2 separate regions of the Homo sapiens genome follow, and region 1 is linked to region 2. The links come from fine-mapping of genetic effects on plasma protein levels. A gene starts in region 2. The other region holds a variant in brackets. All regions are shown on one strand. Distances are from middle to middle.

What was found. PIP is the chance, under the fine-mapping model, that this variant and not a neighbour inherited with it causes the effect. Protein levels are from antibody-based Olink assays in UK Biobank. Linkage for the fine-mapping came from a reference panel and not from the study's own genotypes, which makes the PIPs less certain.
Region 1: its variant is fine-mapped to the plasma level of the FRZB protein (UK Biobank, PIP above 0.99). The variant lies in the coding sequence of FRZB. If it changes the protein, the assay may bind it differently, which can mimic a change of level.

What each region holds. Positions count from the first base shown.
Region 1 is chr2:182,828,807-182,837,739 of GRCh38, reverse strand. FRZB (frizzled related protein) reads left to right here. Exons shown (of 6, transcript NM_001463.4): 6 at 2,775-4,465. The coding sequence ends at 2,891. Among named protein-coding and RNA genes, the nearest start is that of FRZB, 33 kb to the left of the region's middle. The variant T/C (reference allele first, on the strand shown) is at 2,785.
Region 2 is chr2:182,862,715-182,872,619 of GRCh38, reverse strand. FRZB (frizzled related protein) reads left to right here and starts at 5,983. Exons shown (of 6, transcript NM_001463.4): 1 at 5,983-6,545. The coding sequence starts at 6,068. RefSeq lists an enhancer at 5,852-6,820.

The DNA.
Region 1 (8,933 bases), 34 kb after region 2:
ATCTAACTACAGTTGCCCTAATGTCTCTTCACAAGGAGTCTAGCTGTAGTCCAGTCCTGGTAGGGTGGTTTCATGTTGTCAGGCTCCTTCTAGCTTATCACTCTACCATTTTTAAAGGCATCGCTTTCATACTCATGTTCACCTGGAGGTCACAAGATGGCTGCTCTGCCTCTAGTATCACATGTACATTTCAGGCAGGAAAAAGAGGAGGTAAAAGGGATTTCCAAGAGCCTCATCAAGCAGTTTTTACTTAGCTGCAAAACAGGCTAGAAAATGTAGTCTTTTTAAACCTGGGGATATTGCTTCTTTGAACAAACTGCAGTTTGTGAGAAGGGGAGAATAAATGATGGGAAGGAAAATAAACAATGATGTCCGATGAATAAACAGCAATTCCTATGTACAAAGTGTAGCTACATTCATCTGTATAGAAGAGATCTGAATAAATTAGGTCCTTAGAGCAGTAATGTAGCCTTATTTTTAAGCCAAATAACTCTTAGATTGTGGAATTGATACATTTTTTAAAATCACATAGTACAGTACTGTATTATAGAAGGTTTTGTTTCTTCTTACTGCACTAAGCAAATCTGTTTTAAAGAAAAGAATGGGGTGGGGGAATGCATGGGGGGACAAAAAAATCTCAAAGGATGTGTGGGTGGGTGGGGGGAGTGGGAACTGTACCAAACATAATACATCCTCTTCCTTCTGCAAGTTTGAAGGCTTGGGAAACATTTACATGGTAAGTTAAACACCCCTGGGCGGTTTATCTTATACATCTGGCACTTGACACGGCAGACACGTTTGGGTTTAAGTGACCTACAAAAATGTAGAGGGCATTATTTTGTAAGGAGAAACTACCCTCCAGTAAGTTCTTCTCCCCTTTAGTAGATTTGTCAAAAGGGAGATGCATTTCAAGTTCAGACTTGCGGGCATTCTCTCTGCATCTCTCTTCAATTAGTTTGGTGTTTATTAAAGAAAAAAGTGGCTCTTGTTCAGTATGTTGGAATCTCTTACTGTCTTTAATTTGGTTTTCTGCTTGCTAATGCAGAACTGGAATTTGTCCTAAATTCCTGTACCAGTTGGAAAAGCTTTCAATATCCCTGCTGCGAAGCATGTAACAAGGCTTACTGCTCCTCTTTTGGTACCAAAACAATATCATTGTGTTGTTGACAGGACACATGGCTTGTTTGTCCTGTTTCCCATTGCTTTCTGCAATATTTCCCATTGTTTTCCGCAGGGGACTTGCAGAGTTATTATTGTAAAGTCATTTATATTCTCAGTCTGGATTTAAATATTCTAAAGGAAAGAAACCAATAATTTGAACAATTTTAAATTCATATGCAGATATTGAGGGCTAAAGAGTTTGGGTAGAAAATCTCCTTTGGCCAGAATTATTGAGATTCCTATTTTAGTTTTCCAGTCAATTTGAAGATGTGTAAAAAGAGTTTTATGGAGGATGTTATTTTTTCAATCAGATTTGCTCTTAGCTGAGTTTTGCTCTCAGTGGATGAATCAATAATTTTATAAGAAACATTATTATGTTTTTTTCATGCAAATGGTTGTTTACCTAAGTCTCTTATAGCAGACGATTCAAGATGTTTGGACTTCCTTGGGAAGTTGAGAATCAGACTGTTTTTAAAATATGAAGACAAGATTGTGGAGTAAAGAATACTGAAATGAAGAATTACCTTCAGTAACAGAAAAACAATAACACATTTACTATGTGCTAAGCACTTTATATTTTTATTAATCTTCAGATGTATCTACTTATAAGTAGATTCTATTATCAGTTCCAACATATACATGATGAAAATGAGGTCTAGTAAGTTCAAGAAACTTCACACAGTAAGTGGTGGAGTTAGAATTTGAACTTGGGCCATCTGACCCAAGGATCTGATGGTGCTTGCTCTTTAAAGTGTGGTCCCTGGATCAGCAACATAGGTATCACCTGGGAGCTTGTTAGTAATGAAAATCTTCGGCCCTGTCTCAGACCTGCTAAATGAGAATTTGCAATTTTAACAAATTCCCCATATGATATCCGTGTTTGAAGTTTGGGAAGTACAGCTGTAGTTCGTATTCCCTACCTATCCTCATGTAATATAACTTCCATTTAACTTAAATTACATGAAAATATTATTGACATTGTTAATATGAAATATTACTAAACTTGATTGTGTTTATTAAAAACATTGCTAATACCTGCTTTGTAACACTTAGAACGAGGGCAGGACCTTGTCTGTTTTATTCATTGTACTTAGTGGATATTACTTAGAAAAATATTTTTGAGACCCCCCCATCCCTCAAAAAAATTTCCATTTTTTTTTCACTGCTCAAATCACATAGACTTTAAAAGGCTATGTTCTTATGTGTATTAAGAGAGGATGTTGAAAAATAGCCTTCCCTTCAAATTCTGTGTGTAAATCTTCCATTTGTTGAGTATCTGTGAAGCACTAGCCTCCTGTATGTTACCTCAGGAAATACCCAGAGATATAGGGAGATATTTCTGTCATCATTTATAGACATGGACATTTTAAGTTTAAGGTTTGATAAGAAAGCATTACTAAATACATTATAGATGTTGCGCTTGTTAAAGTCAGAGAATAATGTTCATATTGCATCAGTTTTCTTGTTACCCTGGGAAATAGATTGATACTTTTGGAAAAGTAGCAAAATGCTTCAGAGATCTGAACTTGCAGTCTGACCCAGTTGTTAGAATCATGGAAATAATGACCCTGGTGATATGTGCTTGTGACTATTTTCTATTTTAAATTTCACAGCGCTGGGATA[T/C]GAAGCTTCGTCATCTTGGACTCAGTAAAAGTGATTCTAGCAATAGTGATTCCACTCAGAGTCAGAAGTCTGGCAGGAACTCGAACCCCCGGCAAGCACGCAACTAAATCCCGAAATACAAAAAGTAACACAGTGGACTTCCTATTAAGACTTACTTGCATTGCTGGACTAGCAAAGGAAAATTGCACTATTGCACATCATATTCTATTGTTTACTATAAAAATCATGTGATAACTGATTATTACTTCTGTTTCTCTTTTGGTTTCTGCTTCTCTCTTCTCTCAACCCCTTTGTAATGGTTTGGGGGCAGACTCTTAAGTATATTGTGAGTTTTCTATTTCACTAATCATGAGAAAAACTGTTCTTTTGCAATAATAATAAATTAAACATGCTGTTACCAGAGCCTCTTTGCTGGAGTCTCCAGATGTTAATTTACTTTCTGCACCCCAATTGGGAATGCAATATTGGATGAAAAGAGAGGTTTCTGGTATTCACAGAAAGCTAGATATGCCTTAAAACATACTCTGCCGATCTAATTACAGCCTTATTTTTGTATGCCTTTTGGGCATTCTCCTCATGCTTAGAAAGTTCCAAATGTTTATAAAGGTAAAATGGCAGTTTGAAGTCAAATGTCACATAGGCAAAGCAATCAAGCACCAGGAAGTGTTTATGAGGAAACAACACCCAAGATGAATTATTTTTGAGACTGTCAGGAAGTAAAATAAATAGGAGCTTAAGAAAGAACATTTTGCCTGATTGAGAAGCACAACTGAAACCAGTAGCCGCTGGGGTGTTAATGGTAGCATTCTTCTTTTGGCAATACATTTGATTTGTTCATGAATATATTAATCAGCATTAGAGAAATGAATTATAACTAGACATCTGCTGTTATCACCATAGTTTTGTTTAATTTGCTTCCTTTTAAATAAACCCATTGGTGAAAGTCTTTTTTTTTCTCTTCTTTTAAAATAAATCAGAATTGCCGTATTGACCAGGAAAAGATTATGTATGCACGTGCACCAGGGTTAGTTTTTAAAAGTACATGGCTCCATAAAAATGCTGTAGATTACAGAGTGATAAAATATGCAGGTTTTTTTGTTTTTGTTTTTTCTGTTGTGTGTGTGTCTGTATTTGTGTACATGTGTGTCCTTGCACTCACACCCAAGGTGGATTAAAATACAGGCCTGCAAACTGGCCTGCACTTTATCATTTGGATTTGTGCTGCTTAATGCTCAGCGAAAAATGTCTAGTAAAATGAATTATGGTTGTCAGGAGAGAGGTTATTTCGACTTTTGAACCAATTGCACATTTCTCATTACCCAAGCTGTGGTGAGATCCCAGGGGCTGTGGTGAACAAATGATGCTTTTATAGATGGTCCCTAGCTTACAATGATTCAATTTACAATGCTTCAATTTAACAATTTGTTGACTTACAATGGGTTTATCAGGATGTAACCCAATGCATTTCAACTTACGATATTTTCAGTTTCGAATGGGTTTATCCAGATGTAACCCCATCGTAAATGGCGGAGCATCTGTACTTCCTTCCTCTGGCAGAGTTCCTTAGAGCCTGTGCCAATTACTTGAAAGTTTCATTCTCTGCCATTTACATGTGTGCTATTAGTAGAACCAAATTTCTAAGCTGTGGCGTGCTGAAAATAAAATGCTTATGAAGCAAAAATCGTGCTATGTTTCCTTCTACAAGGATAATCAAGCAAGGATGAAATTCATTCCTGAACAAAAGTTTCCTAAAATGGTAAATAATCATCTATCTAAATGTTCTATTTTAAAAGTGTGAGCTGGGTGTGGTGAGTGCACCTGTAATCCCCACTACTTGGGAGGCTGAGGAAGGAAGACGGCTAGAGCCCATGAGGTTGAAGCTGCAGTAAGCTATGATTGCGGCCACTGTACTCCAGCGTAGGCGATAGAGCATGACCCTGTCTCTGTAACAACAACAAAAGTGTGAAAGTTCATTCTACAAATTGGAGTCACTCATATCATACCCAACTAAAATGGAGTCGGGAGGCCATGGGGAAAGGCACCCAGGTCCCTGTTCCAGGAACCATTTTTGCAGTTCAACAGAAAAATCACGAAGACCTAACTCTAACCTTAAGATAAAGTTACCTAGCTGCTGCCACTCACCAATCAGAACTTGCTAGATCCTACAAGACGCGCCTGGCTCCAGTGAACTTTCATTCAAAACCATTTAGATCACCTTCCTCTCTTCCCCAATAAAACCCCAGCCTTTCTCTTTGTTCTTTGAACACAACTAGAGGCTACACTGGTTTGTGTGCCCAGAATTACAATTCCAATTCTTATATTCCCAAATAAACCCTTTACTTGGAGATTTATCTCCCTATATTTAAAGGTGACAGAGTAAGGGAACATTCCTGCCTTCTGATTGACTCTCCAAAGCCAACAATTTCCCCAGCCCCAGAAGAAAACATTCCCACCTTTGCCTATAGGACTGCATAGTCTTTTGAGCTTCCAAAAGACCACTTCCAAAGGGCTTGCCATCTGCCCATTGTTGCTATATTCTCAGATGGCAAGGACATCTCTTTTGAGGTGCTGATGTCCTACCCTTAAAAGGTGAGTTGGGTGTCACTGGGGAGTAATGAAGCGCCACCGTGGATGGACTGCCCCTGAGAATCTCTCTTCCTGGTATGTAAGCCTCAACTTGAGCCTGAGGACAGAGGGGTGGAAAGTAGTGCTGGTGCCTCAGCCTGTTTTCCTCAGGCTTTCTCACGTTAACTCTGTAAAGAAGGACAAGAATTGACTACAGGAGAGGTTTAAAGGAACCGTTATCTCAAATCCACAAACCTCAACTCTCTCAATGCACAGTAAGCAATGTTAAGTAAGGAACTCTTTTGATGTATAAAAGCTGCAGATGTTTCCAGCTTCTGCAGTTTTTTTTGGGGGGTGGGGGTTGGGTAAAGGGGGTATGATCAGTTTCTGTGTAGGAATTTGACACACTTTATGCTTAATATAAACAAAACACGGCCAGATTCTTAGATTCAGCAGTTTTTTTTTTTTTTAAACCACCTTCCATTCGGTGCCATTTTACAACCTACTGTTTTACCACTACCATCTATAGTGGCAATGTTTGATTTTGCTCACCTATATGAGGCTTCTGTCAGCTGTTTAAACATTTCTAATGGTATAAAGCCCATGAATAAAGTACATTTGGTTTTTCAGTTTGATAGCTACAATATCTTCATTAATAAACTGTGCAGACCTCTTTTGGGAGGATGGCGTGATTTATCATGATGGTCACGTTTCTCAGGAGACTGCAAAACCATTTCTACTCTAGTTGCCATAGTACAAAGACACCTCGTTAATGCCTCTCTATAGGGTTTTCTTGCAGATAGTAACTTTTAAAGCCACTAAAAATTTAATATACATGCATCCTTGTCAGTAACCTTGAGATTGATAAAATTTATATTTCTTTAAAAAATTTTATTCAACTTTAGGATTTTAATTTTCTTAGCCAAATTAAAGTCAGATGCATGCTGAATAAAGTAGCAAATACTTAAATAGCAGCAAACATGGATTCTCTTTTCATGGATATGTATTTTACTGTGTCACATACAATGTAATCTGATTCAGTGCCATATGTTGCACCCAGCATTCAGGGATGGGGTGAGACAAACTGTCTTTCCACATGTGTTACACATTAAGAAGGCAAAAACAAAAGTTATAATCACTGTGAGCAAATAGCACTACCTATTGCCTTCTGCAAGAAATTATTTGCTGTTACATTTCAACAAGTAAAATGACTAAAGGTATTTCAAGATTGACATTTAGCACTGAGTTTTAACATATTTTAATACACAAAAATTCAAGAAGATGGTAAAAATAAAGCAGAGACTTCTAATATGGTGTTACTGAAATCCAGCCTATAAAATTTAAAAGTATGGTACCCAGATGTATTAATATTAACAAAAACAGTATAGTCATACCTTTCATAATTATCTGTTTGGGGTAATAACATCTAACAGTGGCTGGAACTCTATATGAAACACTTGTGCATATGTTACCTCACTTATTCCTTGAAAGTTGTTGAAGTAGATGTTTTATTCCCATATAACAGATTTTTTTTTTTTAAATGAGTATTTAGAACTTCAGAGTTGTGTAAGTAGCAGAGCTGGGCCTTAGATCCTCATAATCTTATTTCCCAAATTATATGTTTTCCACCACTGCAATTTCTGATAAAAAGGTAAATGCATCCTAGCACTGTAAAAAAAGAAAAAGCATAGTGTCAGGCATATAGTGGTAGCTATTGCTATTATTGGATTATAATAAATAATAATATAAATATAACAATAGCTATTATTTCTTAAACTGAGGTCTACCAACTATGTTAGAAAGCCTATATAATATAGGCCCAACTCTAATCCAAGATACAGTCACTTCACATCTTCAGGTGTCCTCCCTTATGAAATCAGAATTTCAGTAGAATTATTTCCATACAGACAGGCAGGTGAATTAAGTAATTTTGGGGGCATTAGTTGTTTAAAAATGTGTGACTCTCAGAAAAGCATTTTTCAAGGTTTCTGTTTTCCCTTGAATTTGTAGAAAAGTAAACAGTTAATTGTATTCAACAACACCTGGAAGAAAGTTGAAATTAAAAGTTGATAATTATTACAAATAAAACGAGAACGACTACTTCCACTGGGAACTCCCATTTCTCCTTTTTAGATTATGCCCCCTATGTTTCCCACCACCAGAGTCCTCCATAATCTAGAAAAACTATTCCACCTGACCTAATTCCCCCTGCTTTTCATTCATTAAGTATTTTCACTATGACAGGGATTCAACATGTTAATACAACTAAATATGTTTTTCTTCCGATGAAATGCAAACGTTTGTCATGTTTCTACTTAGGTGGTTGTTGAGAACTTGAGGAGTTGTCCCATGAAGAAGGAAAGGTTGTGCTCAAGGAAATTTGTCCAAAAAAAAAAAAAAGGATTTGTGGGCTGTTGAGGAAACTGACACAGAAATGAAAGAAAATGCGGGAAAGAATTTTCTACTCACCACAGGGATGTGGAGGGGAATGACCCCACTCATTACACAGTGGTACTGTGGCCACTCTTGCAAACAGCCACCACCTCCCTCCCCACACACTTAGCATCACGATGTGAGGTTGATGTTATGATTGCAGGGTTGGACTTAGGATAGTCTGGGGCCTCAGCAAGGGTGGGTCGGGTGATGTCTGAAACATAGGATAGCTCTGAGATGTTAAGAAGTCAATGAAACAGGGAACAAAGGATTTCTTGTTTATACTGGGTGGTAAATCCAATAAATAAAGCAGATGCAGTTCACTCTAATGTCTTTATTTCTACATTATTTTGGTGATTCTGAGGGAATCATGGCTTCCCAGAGATGGTATTCCTGTCCTAGCACTGAAAAGAAGAATTTGAGTTGAACTGTGGGACAACTTGGCAAAAGGAGAGATCAATATGAACAAAATTCCTATTGGAAAACTTTCTCTACGACCTAAAACTCAAGTAATATATCAAAGCTTTAAAAGATGCATGATACTCCAGGTGAAGTCTTCTGCCAAAAAAAAAAAAAAAACATGTTTAAATTTGGCCTTTTCTTTCCTTCTCATTAATTACTGGAATTGCCATGAGTCCCTTGCTCTGTGAAGGTTTCTCTTTCTTTGAAAATTCAAGATATGGTGTCTTGTAAGTGATCTAACCAGCCAGCTCTTTCTAATAAAACATGGCCTAAGATAAGAAAAACAAACAAAACAAACAAACCAAAAACAGAAAAAAAAAAACCCGTGATGCTCAGAAAATATTATACCCACAAATACTGAATTGTCCTGTCTGCTCACATTCATCTCTTTCCCTCCTGGCCATTCTTGCCTATTCTGCTTTTCCTCATATTGCTTGGCTAATTAAATCAAACACATAGCTACAGGAATATTTTCAGAATTGCTAGAAGATCAGGCATGATGCAAATATCTGATATTCTTTAAATCCATTGATCAATATCCATGATGCTCATTTCGATTCCTTTCAGGTCATCAGCTCAGGCAGTCTTGTCCTGAGGTTTTCTTGCCTACACGATGCCTGGAACCACAGCTGCCCACACTCCTTCTTCCTTAGGGACAACATTTGGAGACATTCAATCATTCAAAATGG
Region 2 (9,905 bases):
GCATTCCATGGGATGGGCTGGGGGTTCATATGTTCCTCATAAATAATGAATTAATCTCTGGATTGGTCACTTTTGAATTCCTTACCTCGCAGCTCTGAACACACATTGTTTTTAGACCATAGGGTCATTCTCAGGGTATGCTTAAGTTGAGTTATTGCTGCTGGTAGGTACATCTGCCATACGTGCCATTAACTTCATGATTTTGGGTAAGTGATTTTATCTCAAGTCTTCTTTTCAAATTAAGGTATGGAGGGGAGGGCTAGAAGGTTGCAGAGGTGAAAGAGGTGGGTGGATTAGATTGTTGAGGTTCATTCCACCACTAAGATATTAAGATTCCCTCTGGAACTTCTTTGAAGCTGGATCTATCGTTCTTCTTCTACAACAGAGGTAGAGTGACGCTGTGACCCTTAGGACAGTACATAAAGGTCAGAGGGCCAGCTGATTGTAAGGCTGAGTCTCATTGGGGCTATTATTATGATCTTTGAGTGGTAGAGTTATCTAGACAAACTTTAGAGAGTCATTTAGCTATTAGGTTGCTTTATTACAATTTTGTTTCCAATTTTCCTATGAGAAAAGATAAAAGGAGATAAAATCATGAAATCTTTATAGCATGAAAAGCATTTACTTGGGGTAAATCAGAGCTTAATATCTAGTTCAAAAGAGTGATTTTAAGTGTTGTTCTTCGACAGCAGTATTAGGATCACCTGATAACTTATTTGAAATGCAAATTCTCAGACCTACCTTATCAGAAATTCTGGATGAAGCCCAGCAACCTGTGTTTTCAGGAGCCTTCCAGGGGATTCCGCTGCATGATTCAGTTTGAGAATCATTGCCCTAATGTTGCTGCATTGAACAGTTGGGAAGCTTTTATTGGTTTGCGTGGAGATGGGAAAGGGTAAGATCTTCTTCCTAAGGCAGAACTCAAGGAATTACTAGGTCTGCAGAATACCTCAGGGAGAGGCTATGAGCAAGGAGGTCTCCCCATCTGAAATCCAAAGCTTCTCATTGGGCTTGACATCTTGACATCTTTTTATTCTTTTTTTCTTTTTGAGACGGGTGTCCCTCTGTCACCCAGGCTGGAGTGCAGTGGCTCGATCTCTGCTCACTACAACCTCCGCCTCTCAGGTTCAAGCAATTCTCTTGCCTCAGCCTCCTAAGTAGCTGGGATTACAGGCATGCGCCACCACGCCTGGCTAATTTTTTTTTTTTTTTTTTTTTTTTTTTTTTTTTTTTTAGTAGAGACGGGGTTTCAGCGTGTTGGTCAGGCTGGTCTCAAACTCCTGACCTCGTGATCCACCCGCCTTGCCCTCCCAAAGTGATGTGATTACAGGCGTGAGCCAGCACACCCGGCCGACATCTTTCCATTCTTAAGAAGATAGAGCCAATATCTGACAGTTGGTGTGGTCAGGGTGCAGGCTGAGACCCAAGCTCACAGAGATCCCTGATATTTCCCTTTCCCTGGCTCTTTTCTGCCTATGAAACAGATGATTGGAATTGTTAAAAGAGCATGGATTCGAATCCCACTCTGCCAGGCCCTTATTTATCTGTGAGAACTTTGGGAAACTTCATCTTATGGAGCCTTATTTTCTTCATCTTTGGAACTAATACCTTGAGCAGTTTATGTGCTTAAAAAGTGGTTTACATACCTCACATAAAGTACTCGCAAGTACTCAATAAACACTAATTCCTTGCTCCTTGATACCCTGATAGTACAGAATGGGCCTGGCCACAGCCATTCTGACTCACTGGTGTTCAACTGTACCAGTTTTTAACTATTTTACATATCAGCTCTGCTTGTGAAAATGTAAGAATATTTTCTTATTTTTTGCAAACACATTTTCTTATAGGAAAGATGTGGGCAGACTTATTAACACAAACCTAGGATAGGTTTACAGTTTATTTAAACAGATGAAAAAATAATGTGAATATTCAAATTACTGACAAAATAAGACATTGCAAAATTGGGGCAGGGAGGGGGAAATTGGCCAAATTTGAATTTTGGTAATATGGCTATATCAAAGTAATATACTCTAGCATGATCTTTTTCTTGACATTGCCACAGGAACACCTACCTGTCAGGAAGTTAAACCAAATGTCAATGATCATGGTATCATTACTCATCCTAAGAAGCTTGACTGGCCATCACTGGGTCTGGGTGCACTTCCTAAGCAGTGGTTGAGCCTGGAATTAACCCATAGTCCCAACTAGGTGCTAGGGGGCGCTATGCTGCAGCTCTCAGACAGCCAGGTGTCCTCTGGCTATCATAACCAATGCATATCATAACCTGGATATGCATTGTGTGGAGCCCTTTGAAGTCCTTGAATCTGGTGTCCATAGATTTTTTGTTTCCAGCAGAGTATTAGTATATTAATAATTTGGTGGGGGCTCACACCTGTAAGTGGGCAGATCATTTGAGACAAGGTGGGCAGATCATTTGAGCCCAGGAGTTTGAGACCAGCCTGGGAAATATGGCAAAACTTGGCTGGGCTCAGTGGCTCACACCTGTAATTCCAGCACTTTGAGAGGCCAAGGTGGTTGGATCACCTGAGTGAGGTCAGGGGTTCGAGACCAGCCTGGCCAACATAGTGAGCCCTGTCTCTACTAAAAATACAAAAATTAGCTGGGCAGGGTGGTGCGTGCCTATAGTCTCAGCTACTCGGGAGGCTGAGGCAGCAGAATCACTTGAACCTGGGAGGTGGAGGTTGCAGTGAGCTGAGATCACATCGCTGCACTCCAGGCTGGAGACAGAGCAAGATTCCGTCTCAGCAAAACAAAAACAATAGATGTTGGTGTGGATGTGGTGAAAGGGAATGCTTATACACTGCTGGTGGAAATGTAAATTAGTACAACCTTTATGAAAAACAGTGTGAAGATTTCTCAAAGAACGAAACTGGACCTACAGTTTGATACAGCAATCCCATTACTGGGTATCTACCCAAGTGAAAAGACATCAATTTGTCAGAAGGACAACTGCATGCATATGTTTATTGCAACACAATTCACAATTGCAAAGATATAGAACCAAACTAAGTGCCCATCAACCAAAAATATGGAACTAAACTAAGTGTCCATGTCCATCAAATGATGAGTGGATAAAGAAAATGTGGTATATATACACCACGGAATACTACCCAGCCAGAAGAAAGAATGAAATAATGTATTTTGCAGCAGTTTGGGTGGAGCTGGAGGCCATTATACTAGGTGATTTAACTCAGGAATGGAAAATGAAATACTGTATGTTCTCACTTATAAATGAGAGCAAAGCTATGGGTACAAGAAGGCATATCTTTGAGAGGTATAACAGACTTTGGAGACTCACAAGTGGGGAGCTTGTGAGTCTACTAGGGAGGCTGAGGCAGGAGAATCTCTTGAACCCGGGAGGTGGAGGTTGCAGTGAGCCAAGATAGTGCCACTGCACTCCAGCCTGGGCAACAAGAGCAAAACTCCATCTCAAAATAAATAAATAAATAAATAAAGGAATAATTTGTAAAAACAAACACTGTTCAAGGGTAACTAACCAGAAAAATGAACACAACTAGACAAGGTACTCAAAAGGGCTTCCTCAAGACAGTGACATTTATTTTGGGCTTTTATAAAAACAAATTTGGATTAAAGTTGTAAGGGGACCTATTAGACAAAGAAGATAGCTGACTTTTGTGCAGGGGAAGGAAAACAGACTTTGTTTCAAATAGTTGTAGAACCTTTAAAACTATTGGCACATTTCTTCTCACACTGTAAGACTTAAGATGAACAGAAAAATGTATTTAGCAAACAATCTACTACATCTACTCCTGATGTTTTTTCTTCTAATTATTGAAAATCTCAGCTATATTTTTCTTATACAAAATAGTCCCAAAATGTTCTAATGTTGACTGTCTTTTAAAGTTGTTTTTCCTCTAAATTTTACTTGATAAATCATTTTAAATTCGTTTGTACAATTTTTGAATTTGTTCTCTTACATGACACTAGATAATTGTAGACCAGGCAAAGTTTGTATACTAACTGACTCCCTGTCTACCATCTGGTGTTCCCCGCCCCCGCCACCATAAGTGGAACAAACTTCCTTCCAAAAAAATTTACAGCAGTCACAAACTGCTGTTTATGATCATTTTAGATATAAAATTCCATAACTCAAGTTAGCATTGACATTTTATAAGTGCTGTCAAGTCACTCTAGGGAATGAAAATGAGCATCTCACTATGTGCTCTGAAGTGGGGACATATTTCTCTGCTTGTTATGGACGGTGAGAGATGGCTAAATTGAAGCAGAGAAATATTTCAGTGATGCAGAGCAAAGGTGACTTCCTGTTTTGTTTCAGGTTTTGTTTCCTTCTCCTCTCAATGAAGGCTGTGTTTTCTGACATTCGGCAATCCTTTTGCTCAGTGATTTCCCATTGAGAGGGCATAGTGTGAAGGCCTCTGCAGGTCATTCCATTTACAATATAAGCTGAAAGGGTAGAGTGGGGCGGGGGTGGGGGGAAGAGGGAGCTCATTAGTGGAAGAAGCAGACCAGGAGGGGATCTGTTTTCCATTTTCTCCTCCAGATTGAACTCATCTGGATGGAAAGGTTTTGATTGTTGTTATAATCATCATTATTACCTGCGTGATGTCGTTTTCCTACACTTTTTTTTTAAGTGTCGGGCAGAATTGTTGCTGAGAATAACAAATAATATCTGCCATGTTATCCGTGAGCAAAATCAGAAAAAAAAAGTCCAAGTGTATTAGAGCTGTTAGTTTCCACGTTAACCCTTAAGGAGCAAAGCTCAAGAGTTCTAATTCCACTAGGTGGGGGGGGCGGGAATAGAAGGAAAAAACCCCTTTTCCTTGCTTCTGGTGGCCTATTTGTAGTCATGAACAGCATTTCTTTGTTTCTCTCTCTCTTTTTTTTTTTTTTTAAAGGCAATCCTCCCCCCACCTCCTCCCCCGCAGTTATTGAAAATGGAGACCTCTGTAGTCACTAGCTCTGGGTTGATATGGCTCCACCGTTGCTCGCAGGGGTCTGTGTTTTCCGCTACTTGGACAAAGTGACATTGCTTAAGCCTTTCCCCCCACCAGGTCTGACTTTCTGCAGAGCCAGTGATTGCAGAGGAAAAGCTGTAGTTTGCTTAAAGGAAATACCTCCAGGAAGGAGGGTCTCGGGTGGGTTCCCAAGTGGGGAACTAGGGGGACTTTTCCGTAGGGAATTGGGGTGGGCTCTTCAGTGAGGGGCTAGGGGCTCGTTTCTGGGGCCAAAGACGGGTTCCCTAGTGTGAGGGCGCGCTCGACTCGGCGCTGTCTTGGGGTCTCGCACTCGCACGGCTTCGCACCCCACCGCCTGCGACTCCCAGGCCTTCTCTTCCCCGGGCGCCCACTCCATTCTCGGGAAGAGCAGCCGGCACTGGAGGGCAGAGACTGCCCCAGGGGCGGAGCTCCCTCTCAGGCGGGAGGTAGGAAAGTGCAGAGCCGCCCGGGCAGAGGCACAGACGTCCCTGCGGGGCTCCTCCTGAGCGTCCCTCCTGCCAGCCAGGGTCGCAGCCGCAGCGGCGGCCGCAGCTCTTAGCCCACACAGGACTTGTAAACTCTTACTGCACCCTTCTCTCCCATTAGGAGCTTTTCCTCCCTCCTTCCCCCCAACCCCTCTGTCCTCCTCACTTTGGGGAATTTAATGCTTTCTTTAGCATCTTTTTGTGTGCGTGATCTAGGGGAGGAGACACCCCAGAGCTCCAACTAGCTCTCAGCTGAATTCTACTTTTGTTTTTATGTCTTCCTCGCCTCCTCTCGTGTCCCTCTTATCTGACTGATCTGCGAAGTCTGATGCTTCTGCCAGAGGGAGAGGAATAAATAGATGTTGCTGCTTCCGAAGGCTTAGACGTTGGGAAAGAGCAGCCTGGGCGGCAGGGGCGGTGGCTGGAGCTCGGTAAAGCTCGTGGGACCCCATTGGGGGAATTTGATCCAAGGAAGCGGTGATTGCCGGGGGAGGAGAAGCTCCCAGATCCTTGTGTCCACTTGCAGCGGGGGAGGCGGAGACGGCGGAGCGGGCCTTTTGGCGTCCACTGCGCGGCTGCACCCTGCCCCATCCTGCCGGGATCATGGTCTGCGGCAGCCCGGGAGGGATGCTGCTGCTGCGGGCCGGGCTGCTTGCCCTGGCTGCTCTCTGCCTGCTCCGGGTGCCCGGGGCTCGGGCTGCAGCCTGTGAGCCCGTCCGCATCCCCCTGTGCAAGTCCCTGCCCTGGAACATGACTAAGATGCCCAACCACCTGCACCACAGCACTCAGGCCAACGCCATCCTGGCCATCGAGCAGTTCGAAGGTCTGCTGGGCACCCACTGCAGCCCCGATCTGCTCTTCTTCCTCTGTGCCATGTACGCGCCCATCTGCACCATTGACTTCCAGCACGAGCCCATCAAGCCCTGTAAGTCTGTGTGCGAGCGGGCCCGGCAGGGCTGTGAGCCCATACTCATCAAGTACCGCCACTCGTGGCCGGAGAACCTGGCCTGCGAGGAGCTGCCAGTGTACGACAGGGGCGTGTGCATCTCTCCCGAGGCCATCGTTACTGCGGACGGAGCTGGTGAGTTTTGACACGGCCCACCCTTCCCTTACCCTACAGCCTCCTCAATTCTTGGAGTCCTTGTTACTAGCCTTTACTCTCTAATTTTTTTCTCTTCGGATCACTTAATCTCTCCCATAACTGCTCCTCTATCAAAGACCCTTCTTCTTCTTTCTTCTTTTTTCAAAAACAAAAACAAAAAAACCCTCACCTTATCACCTTCCAAACTGATGCACTCTGGCACTGTGTTCCAATAGGCGATCTTTCTAAAACAATCCATGCATTCCAAACCCATCACACTTCTACTCCACAGGAATCCTTCACTTCAACTCCTTACATGTGCAAGTAGCCACATTTTGTAAAGTGATGCTCTTTTTCTTTTAAAATGTGTTTATAATCATTGGGTTTTCTTTGCTGATTCTCAGGCAATCTCAGTCATCAGGTTTCTGTATCTTTAGTGTCTTAGATGCTTGTTAAGATTGTGTGGAGGAAACAGAAAACTGAAGCCCCATTTTCTTCTAATTAAAAATGCCAAGATAATTTCAATAACCTTACTCTAACCGACAGATGTTAGGGGTATGTGTTTGCTCAAGATCCAGTTTGAGCAATTACCTTCACCTTAAATTTCCCCCTCCTTTCAATGAGATAAATTGTTCTTCCATTCCAGAATGAAACAATTGTGAAACATTGCTATGCACTGTTAATTAGCTTCTGTGGCTTGCCATAGAGCTGGCAGACTGAAATTACTGAGCTCTTTTCACATGCCCACATGCCTTCAAGTCATTTTATAAGTGGCATACAGATGAAAGGAGTTATATTTAAGGCGTGTTATCATACACTCACGTAATGTTATTTTAAATCTCACCCCTTATTCCACTCTCATGTTTTGAAAAAAAAATTGTCTTTAATACCTTATTTCATGCTCCTTTTCCGTGTGTGCACCAACCACAGTCATTTCAGTCTTTCCCTACCATAAAACTTTATTGCAGCTCTAAATTTAATGGAGTCAATCACAAGTTGTTTTCTCACTAGTGTTTAGTCTAATTATGACATTTGTAACTTTAAGACCCCAACTAAACCTACTTCATTATGGTCCATTTAATTCTAACTCAGTATTACTTCTACCAACTAACCCAACCTCAAATTTTACCCTTCATATATTTTATAAAGAAGGCAATTTTTTTTCATGAGTGGTCCTCTTTCATACCACATCCCCCACCCCCCAACAACTCTGTTCTTAGATGTGTTGACTTGGTTGCCTCCATCTGTTTATTTCTTGGGCATCAACTTTCCTTCCTCTTTCAACTTGCGCAGTCTAGGCGCATGTCCCCAGTCCATTTCCAGGTAGTAATTCTTAGTTATCGGGAAATTGATTTGGAAAAATTACCTTCTGTGCACGTTGACTCATTTAACAAAGTGAGAGAAGGAGAAGTAATTGTAAAAATAGCTGAAGGAAAAAAAATAAACAGAAGAATTTCAAGAACTTTTTAATGGTGACCTCACTTAGTTTATCACTTTTTGAATATACCTATTGTCTTCTTGATTTTAATCAAGAACCAAAAGCTAGTTGTGCAAAATCATCACAGAAATGTATTTGCTATTAATCTTTGCTAAAAGAGCATGCTTGAGGCTTCGTACTCACTAAAGTCACAGACTGCAGAGTCTGGAAGTGCTCAGTGCAGTTGCCGCTCTGGTTTGCCAGGCACTTAGAATCAGTTAAATGCAGGTGCTCCTCTCAGGCCAAGGGCTAGGAATGAGGTGGCAGTGGTTCAGGCTGAAATGCATTCCTCCCCGTAAAGCACAAAACTTGCTCTTAAACCTCCCTTAGAGGTGGACCTAGAGTGAGTGAGGTTTGGCAAGGTTAATGGCTCTCAAAAAGCCATAGTCAATATGGATAGGAAGCAGTTTCATTAAGTGTCCCTGAGTTACCAATCACTGTGGAACAAACATGGAAACAGTTGCCTCATTGAAGCACTCAAATAGGACATGCATGGAAACAATTTGTCAGTTCATGGGACCTGATTTCTAAGCTTCTTTAAAATGCCAGAGTATTTGCTTTACTGGCAGCATCCTTGCTAGAAAAATAGGTGGTAGTTGGAATCATAGTTAGTGATGGCATCCCTGCTCCCTTCCATAAGCTTCAGTGTGAACCAGAGGCTATGATGGCAAGGGGAGCTCAAAGGTGGGGGGAGGTGGAAATTGGGAATGAAGTGTGTAGATTGTAGCCTGAAGGGTCTCCTGGCTTCCAGGGCCAGCTTGTTGAAAATTACATTCCCTATGCTGGGTCAAACTGTCAGACACCTGGAATTACTTAGGAACTACCACATGTGGCCAGTGTAATTTACCATGCAATATCCAATATACTCTTTGGTTCAGTGGGAAGTGATAGTTCACAAAGCAAGGTTTTTTTCTTATTCAACTGGGTATAAACAGAATCCCTGTGTCTTTTGACTAGTATCTGTCCAACTAGATATAAAAATGAGGTCTCCCTGAATAAAATAGGACAATCTTTCACATTCTTCTGATGCCAAGAGGATTTTCAAATCCTACCCATTCATGGGGATCTGTTCTCTCATAGTATATCATGACTCCACAAACAAGCTTAGGACCTTTTACAAAGCAGTCTTACTGAAATGGAGTAATGCTTGAAACTACTTTTTGCTTTCAAAATACTAAGGGTAATCATATTTTTGAAAAGAACGGGTTCCATCCTGACCATTATTATTCATCTTACACATTTTATATTTGCATAACTTTGTGTGACTACATGTACAACTGATTATCTGAAAACTCAGCTCAATTGAGTCATTCAGCAAGTTAGTGATGACATTCAGTCAAATCTTTAATATTGTGTGGTGAGTAAAGAGGATAGGCTTGGAGTGGGGCAGACCAGGTGTGAATGACTCTGCCCCGACATCAACTATTGTTATAGGAAAATTATATGACCTCTGTAATTCAAAGTTTTCTTATCTGTAAAATTAGGACAAAACTATCTACATCCCAAGGGCATGGTAAAGATGAAATTAAAGCTGGTGCAGTGGCTCACTCCTGTAATCTCAGCACTTTGGAAGGCCGAGGCGGGTGGATCACTTGAGGTCAGGAGTTGGAGACCAGCTTGGCCAACATGGTGAAACCCTGTCTCTACTAAAAATACAAAAATTAGCCTGGGATGGTGGTGCGTGCCTGTCGTCCCAGCTACTCCAGGAAACTGAGGCAAGGGACTCACTTGAACTCCGGAGGTGGAGGTTGCAGTGACCTGAGATGGCGCCACTGCACTCCAGACTGAGCGACAGAGCCAGACTGTGTTTCAAAAAAAAAAAAAGAAAAGAAAAGAAAAGAAATTAAACAGCATATAAAGCATTGCTTTAGTACTTAGTAAGC